Linked DNA regions of Homo sapiens. The protein of the gene in region 1 interacts with the protein of each later gene in a pairwise test. Each region holds a gene or a part of one and is shown on either strand. Other genes may lie near its edges. The genes, in order: C2orf42 and ECT2.

Region 1 (4,312 bases):
TCTTTCCAGTTTAAGAACTAATACTACAAACATTAGTCCTGGAATGTTCCATTTCTCTTTTTTTATTTTATTTATTTATTTTTTAGACGGAGTCGCTCTGTCGCCAGGCTGGAGTGCAGTGGCGCGATCTCAGCTCACTGCAACCTCAGCCTCCCAGGTTCAAGCGATTCTCCTGCCTTAGTGCCCCGAGTAGCTGGGACTACCCGCACGCGCTACCACGCCCAGCTAACTTTTTTTTTTTGTATTAGTAGAGAGACAGGGTTTCACCATGTTGGCCAGGATGGTCTCGATCTCTTGACCTTGTGATCCGCCCGCCTCGGCCTCCCAAAGTGCTGGGATTACAGCCGTGAGCCACGACGCCCGGCCGGAACGTTCCACTTCTCTTATAAATAGTTGACTAAGGTTTCCCAATAGTAAATTAACCTGCTACCACTAGTAAGTAGCCAGACTAGGGTCAGGAGAGCAGAAAACCTCATTCCAGGGTTTTCCAACACAGTGGCCTCACCATGAACACATTGCACTCGGGAGCTATCTTCAATCATGAACGATGAGCATTTAGATTTATTCCGTGATTCCAAGGACCAGAACTAAGATATACAGGAAGCTCTTTTTTATCTCATTTTAAGAGAAAACGTTCAAGTGTAGTTCAAAGTGTACTTAAGGGAGAAAAAGTTAACTTGTCATAAACATACATGTGATAGAGGTGAATACTCAGGTGGGCAAGAACCTCCAAACAAACTCCAAATTCGCAGCTGACATCTGCTAATAATGTAGAAAATCTCGGGCGATTTTTTTTTTAATTTTCATTTTTTGTAAGGACAGGGTCTCGCTATGTCGCTCAGGCTGGTCTCGAACTCCTAGCCTCAAGAGATCCTCCGCCTCAGCCTCCCAAAGTGCTGGGATTACAAGCGTGAGCCACCACGTCCAGCAACTCAAGTCATTTTTGCATCAATTACCAGCAAAAGTCTATTCAGAAATAGGACTCTCTCAGGCCAGAAGGGAGTCAAGACGAGCCTTGGAGGTGAGCGCCCAGTAAGATAGGCCAGAAGCACTCCAACTCCAAGGCAGAGCCTGAGCTTTACAGCCGCTAGGTCGGCGTATGTTCTACCACCGCATTCCCCCAGTGTCTCAGCGGTCTCTGAAGGAGAGAACTAAAACTCCCATAAGACAACGCGAGCTCAGGTGGGCGGCCACTTGCCGCGCGTGGGCGGCTCTGACCAATAACGATTGTCGTTACAGCGAACAGTTTGGCCCCGTTTGTAAAAGGCCGCGGCAGGCGAAGAGAGAAGAGGTGAGGGCGGTCGTCAGCTAAGGGCCCCGGGGCTCGCGGGGGGTGCGCAGGGCAGGTAAGGGGGTAGTGCTGAGCAAGGACCGGGGCGGCGGTGGGGCAGGGGTGTAGAGCTCGGGTTCCCAGCGGAAAGCATGTCCAAGGAGCGGCTGCCGGCGAGGTGATGCTTCTGCCTGGGCCTACTTGGGACCGGAAGTGAGCGCTCGCGCGGGGAGGATGCCGGGAAGCAGGTCCCAGGGGATATGTGTGTGTCGCTGCAGACCCATCCCGGAAGCCGGCCGGGAGGTGAGCGTCCCGGAGTCGGGCGGCCGCTCCGTTGACTGCAGGGCCCCGGCGGTCTTCCTCCGCTGTTCCGAGGCCGTTGAGGGCTGATGTGCTCCATCCTCCCACTTGTGGTTTGGCAAGCCATCCAGCCGACTACAAACCCACGTTTGTGAGTTACCTGCTGGCTGTGACGCTTCCGTCAAATCTGAGTAACAGTTTCCTCATCTCTAAGATGGGTAACATAGTATCTACCTCACAGGATCGTGTGGGCAGTACATGCATAGAAAGGATTTAACACGCAGTGTACTCAGCTAGTTTTATTATTTATCCGTAATGATCATTTGTTCTTTTCCCCTAACTGTGCCTCACAAGCATGAAACAGAATCCACCAAACATTTAGGTCTGGGTAGTGGTTGGATGGAAACCCATCGCGGGTTAACGCTTCCAACACCAGTCCCTTGACACTCTCCCGCCGAGGAGGCTGATTTGTAAACTTGCTGAGAAGAGAATACCCAGCAGATCTTTCAGGTTTCAAATCCACGTTCTTTACAAGTTGTGTTAATTGTTTGTATATGCTTTCGATATAGAGTCTCTAGGAAGTAATACTAGTACATGTTTTAAAATTCAAATACTGCCAAACAGTGAGATGTAAGTCTCCCTCCTAACTTCTGTTTCCCAAATCCCATGTCGTTTCTTCTGATGCAATAGACATTGTATGTGTGTGTGTCTAGATAGATACATATGTGTATCTCTCGTCTTTTTTTTTTTCTTTTAAAAGAGTAAAACCAAGAATAGCATATTACAAAGTGCTGCACTTTTTTCACTCCACAGTGTATCTTTTTTTTTTTTTAAGAGACAGGGTCTCACTATGTTGCCCAGGCTGGTCTTGAACTCCTGAGCTCAGTGATCCTCCCGCCTCAGCCTCCCAAAGTGCTGGGATTACAGGCGTGAGCCACCACGTCCAGCTACTCAGGCCATTTTTTTTTTTTTTTTTTTGAGACGGAGTCTCGCTGTCGCCCAGGCTGGAGTGCAGTGGCACGATCTCGGCTCACTGCAGGCTCCACCCCCCAGGGTTCACGCCATTCTCCTGCCTCAGCCTCCCTAGTAGCTGGGACTACAGGCGCCCGCCACCTCGCCCAGCTAATTTTTTGTATTTTTAGTAGAGACAGGGTTTCACTGTGTTAGCCAGGATGGTCTCGATCTCCTGACCTTGTGATCTGCCCGCCTCGGCCTCCCAAAGTGCTGGGATTACAGGCGTGAGCCACCGCGCCCGGCCCATTTTTTTTTTTTTTTTTTTTTTTTTTTGAGATGGAGTTTCTCTCTTGTTCCCCAGGCTGGAGTGCAATGGCACGATCTTGGCTCACCGCAACCTCTGGCTCCCGGGTTCAAGCGATCCTCCTGCCTCAGCCTCCGGAGTAGCTGGGATTACAGGCATACGTCACCACGCCCGGCTAATTTTGTATTTTTAGTAGAGATAGGGTTTCTCCATGTTGTTCAGGCTGGTCAGGAACTCCCGACCTCAGGTGATCCGCCTGCCTCGCCTCCCAAAGTGCTGGGATTACAGGTGTGAGCCACCGTGCCCGGCCATGCCATTTTTTTTTAAACAGCTGTAAAAATATTTTATTTTCTGGGAAGTATTCCATTTTGTAGGCATACCATAATTAATTACACCAGTATCTTCTTGAGGGACATCAGGTTGTTTCTTATATTTTGCTGCTACAAATATTCTTCATTGAGTTGCCTTATAATTTCCCTCATTTCACACATGTGGGAGTCAGTCTGTAAAATAAATTCTTAGTAGTGTAATTGCTGGGTCAGAATATCAAATCAAAATATACTGATTCCAAATATGCAAGGAAGATATCAAACAAGCTCAAATTGAGGGACATTTTGTAAAATATTCGACTCTTCAAAACTGTCAAGATTAGGAAAAAGAAAGACAAACTCACGGACTTGAGGGGACTAAGGAGACGTGATGACTCAATGCAATGTGGTATCTTGGATTTGATCCAGAAACAGAAAAAAGGGGCAAAGTCTAGAGTTCAGTTAATAATAATGTGGCAATGTTGGTCCCTTGGTTTTGACAAATGTCCCATGTTTATATATGATGTTAACATTGGGAAACTGGGTGAGTGGTGTTTGGGAACTGTGTTCTATCTGCCACTTTTCTGAAAATCTAAAATTAGTCTAAAAGATTTATTCTTTTTTAAAAGGGAGATTGAGGCCAGGCATAGCGGCTCACGCCTGTAATCCCAGTACTTTGGGAGGCCGAGACAGGCAGATCACTTGAGGTCAGGAGTTCGAGACCAGCCTGGCCAACATGGAGAAACCCCGTCTCAACTAAAAATACAGAAAAATTAGCCGGGCTTGGTGGTGGACGCCTGTAATCCCAGCTACTCAGGAGGCTGAGGCAGGAGAATTGCTTGAACCCGGGAGGCAGAGGTTGCAGTGAGCCAAGATCACGCCACTGCACTCCAGCCTGGGTGACAGAGCAAGACTCCGTCTCAAAAAAATAAATAAAATAAAAAGGGGCATTAGTGGACAACTGGTAAAATCTGAATAAAGCCTGTAGTAGAGTTAATAGTGTTGTACCAATGTTAAGACCTTATTTTTGACAAATGCCCCATAGTTATGTGAGATGTTAACATTTGGGGAGTCTGTGTGAAAGGTAGGTAGGAAGTCTCTGTACTGTCTTTAGCTTTCCTATAAAAGCCAAAATGCAGTCGGGTATGGTGGCTTATGCCTGTAATCCCAGAGCTT
Region 2 (3,818 bases), on another chromosome or scaffold:
GACTTGTAAATATATTTTTCTCTTGTTCCTGTCTCAGTAAAGAACCATGGAAGTAAATTGAGCTTGTGTGCTTTTGATTACAGGCAAATACTCCTGAGCTCAAGAAATCAGTGTCAATGCTTTCTCTAAATACCCCTAACAGCAATCGCAAACGACGTCGTTTAAAAGAAACACTTGCTCAGCTTTCAAGAGAGACAGACGTGTCACCATTTCCACCCCGTAAGCGCCCATCAGCTGAGCATTCCCTTTCCATAGGGTCACTCCTAGATATCTCCAACACACCAGAGTCTAGCATTAACTATGGAGGTAATTCACATTCTTAAAAACTTGTCTTTAAAGTTTAGTGGAATGGAATAATTGTTAGAATTTAGATAAATCCCTGATATAGTGAATATGGAAGTCTTTGCCTTTAATTACCTTTGTTCTAGCTGTAGAGAAAAGACACATGAATAGTTAAGCTTAATAATGTTGCAATTTAATGACTGCTTACTACATGCTAAATGCTTTATACGTTTTGTGTGTTTATAATAGATTTTATTATTCCTGTTTTACAGATGACTAAACTGAGATACAGAGAAGTTAAGTAATTTCTCCAGGGTCATATAACTAGAGAGTGATAGTGCTGTTCAAAAAGCAAACAAAGTCACAGGGGAGGTCACATAAATTATGGAGAAAATAGGTAGAATGAAGTCAGAGGAGGGTGAGTTCACTTTGTGCTGAACTGATACAGAAAGGCTCCTATAATTCTTCCTTGGTTATCAGTATTTCCCTTTCTTTTTGATTTTTAGTCTGTAAACAAATGTGTTTTCTAGATTTAAGAAACAAAAAAAATCAAAATCTCCTCCGGACCTCATGACACTTTTCACTTATTGTCCCATTTTTCTGTTTGCTTTCACATCAGCATACTTAAAAGAATTACTTTGATCTATTGTCTCATTTCCTTGATTCTCGTTGTCCTTTCAACGCATTCCAACTGATCTGCAGTCCTTGTTGGGGAGACAGTTTTTATGCATTCAACACATGAATAGCTACTCCTTTATGGACACAATTTTTTTTCTTTGCTTCTGTGATATTACTTACTCATTTCTCATTCTCCTTGGCCTAACTTCTTTTTTTCAATTCTAAATGTTGTATGTTCCTCCTGAGTCATTGTTTCTTCTCTATTGTACTCTCCCTAAATTATCGTAGTAAAATCTATGGTTTTGAAAAGCATTTGTATGCTGATGACTCCCAAATTTGTCCTCTTCCCTGTCAAGCTACCTACTTTGTACTTCCTTGTCCATGTCTAATAGATATCTTAAACCTAAGATAACCAAATTAGACCTTTGGATTCTGCCACTCTTAATTCCTCTGTTCCTTTGCTCCTCTTCATCAGTCTTTTCTGTAAAAAGGATCTCTCTTAGATGATTGCAGTAGTCTCCTAAATAGTCTCTCCCTTTTAATTTGTGCCTTTCTATATGCAACACTTAGAAAAATCTTTAAAAATATATAAATTAGATGATGCCACTCCTCTGCTTTAAAATCACTTAATGGCTTTCTATTACTGTAGCTTTTAAGTCCCTATGTAATCTTGCCCTCATCTGCCTAATCTCATGTGGTATTATGCTCTCTAATAATGCCTGTACTCTCTAAGCTTCAGTCATACCATCTTTGTTATTCTTCAAATATTTTTAGTACATCCATACCTCAGGACTTTGTTACTTTCTCTGCCTCAAGGAAATCTGCGTGGATTGTCTGTAAAGTTAAATCCCTCCACTCCTTTCTGCCAATCCTGTGACCTGGTAGTTGTTTTTAGTAGTAGTTCTTACGATAGAAATTACAGTACTTGTTTACTTCTTTATTATTTGATTTGCTTCAAATAAGTAATCTTTAAGAGAAAATGAACCTTGTCTGTCTTATTCTGTGTTTATCCTCAGACCCTAGTATAAAGTGGGTATTCACTAAATACTTAAGGGAAGAACTGAAAGTGAATTCAAGGTTGGCCCAGAAATTTGAAATGAATTTGAGAATATAAAGAGGAGCAAATATACAGATAATAGCATACAAACTGAGTTTTTAGAGAATAATGGATAGATCAGTTTGCTTGGAATGTGGAGGAATAAAAGTTAAAAATGTTAATTGAGGCCTAATATTAGGTCACTTTCAAATAAGACTGTAATATCTGAACTGTATATTGTCATCAACAAGGAATTTTAGAAACTCCTTGAGCAGCAGAGAAATTGATTGAATAGATAATTCATAGAGAGTTGTTCTGAAGAATGATTAGAAGGAAGGCAGTTTGGAGACAGTCAGACCATGATGTAATCTATTACAATCGCTTCGGCCATGAAATAATAAGGTGCTGAACCAGAGTATGTGGTGGTTGGAAAGAAAAGTAAGAAGCACTGGAGAAATATTGGTAGAATAAAGCAATAGGGAGGAAATAAAAAGAGATGAAGGCAAATTACTAATTTAAATGAAAGAAATGTTGCCTTGGCATGGATAGGAAATTTATATTTTGGAGGGAGGTAGTGAAGTTTTAGAGAAATCCAAGTTACATTAAGGCAGAACTATCCAGTAAGCATTTGGAAAAGTTGAACCAGCTTGAGAGGGAGATCATGATTAGATCTGAGAATGTACTAGTTTTATAATCATAATGGACAATAGCATGGGATGGTAAGAGGAGAACATAAAGGACTGAAACTTGAATATGCATTTTAGGAGACAAGAGAACAAAATGAACCACCGAAGTAAACAGATGTGACAACTATACTGATATTTTAGGTGCTCTGTAAAATAGATTCCCCAGTTTGTAGGTCATTGTCTAGACACAGAATAATTAAATTAGATCAGTGCATCTCAATTTTTTCCCACTGAAGTATATTCTGTAATGGCAGAGGCTTCTGGGTCTGGTGAGTGTAGCCTAAAATAATGTTTGACAAGTGGGAAATTTTTTGAGATTCTGTTTTTTTTAAAAAGCACTCAGGGGCTGGGCGCGGTGGCCCACGCCTGTAATCCCAGCACTTTGGGAGGTTGAGGAGGGCAGATCACGAGTTCAGGAGTTCGAGACCAGCCTGACCAACATGGTGAAACCCCATCTCTACTAAAAATACAAAAATCAGCAGGGTGTGGTGGTGTGCGCCTGTAATCCCAGCTACTCAGGAGACTGAGGCAGGAGAATCACTTGAACCCGGGAAGTGGACGTTGCAGTGAGCCGAGATGGCACCACTGCACTCCAGCCTGGGGGACAGAGTGAGTCTCCATCTCCAAAAAAAAGCACTCAGAACTCCATAGTACATAATTGTTTTCATATAAAAGCATTTAAAATTGTTTATCATTGAGTAAAATTGATGTGCTGGAAATATATATTATGGTTCTTTGTCACCTATTTCTATTTTATGTCATACATTCCTTTTCCTGTTGAAAAACTTGCTATTAGGTGCTTCTATATATAATGTTAAAGTATTCTAACCATATTAACAGTAAGAAAACAGATTTTAAGCTTTTATACATTAAAAAGATGTATATATATCTATAGATATGTGTATAGATTTTTTTTTTGAGACGGAGTCTTGCTTGGTCGCCAGGCTGGAGTGTGGTGGCGTGGGAGTGTGGTGGCAGGATCTAGGCTCACTGCAACCTCCACCTCCTGGGTTCAAGAGATTCTCCTGCCTCAGCCTCCTGAGTAGCTGGGATTACAGGCATGTACCACCACGCCTAGCTAATTTTTGTATTTTTAGTAGAGATGAGGTTTCACCATGTTGGCCAGGCTGGCCTCGAACTCCTGACCTCAAGTGATCTGTCCGCCTTGGCCTCCCAAAGCGTTGGGATTACAGGAG

What was found.
Region 2: the proteins of C2orf42 (region 1) and ECT2 interact in a two-hybrid assay, tested with the Homo sapiens proteins (one large-scale study listed by BioGRID).

The regions. Positions count from the first base shown.
Region 1 is NC_000002.12:70,187,952-70,192,263, reverse strand, and holds the start of C2orf42 (uncharacterized protein C2orf42), read left to right. Parts: upstream 1-1,244; 5' UTR 1,245-1,291; exon of another isoform or gene 1,292-2,080; intron 2,081-4,312.
Region 2 is NC_000003.12:172,764,195-172,768,012, forward strand, and holds part of ECT2 (protein ECT2), read left to right. Parts: intron 1-83; coding exon 84-306; intron 307-3,818. UniProt on the Homo sapiens protein: Guanine nucleotide exchange factor (GEF) that catalyzes the exchange of GDP for GTP. Promotes guanine nucleotide exchange on the Rho family members of small GTPases, like RHOA, RHOC, RAC1 and CDC42.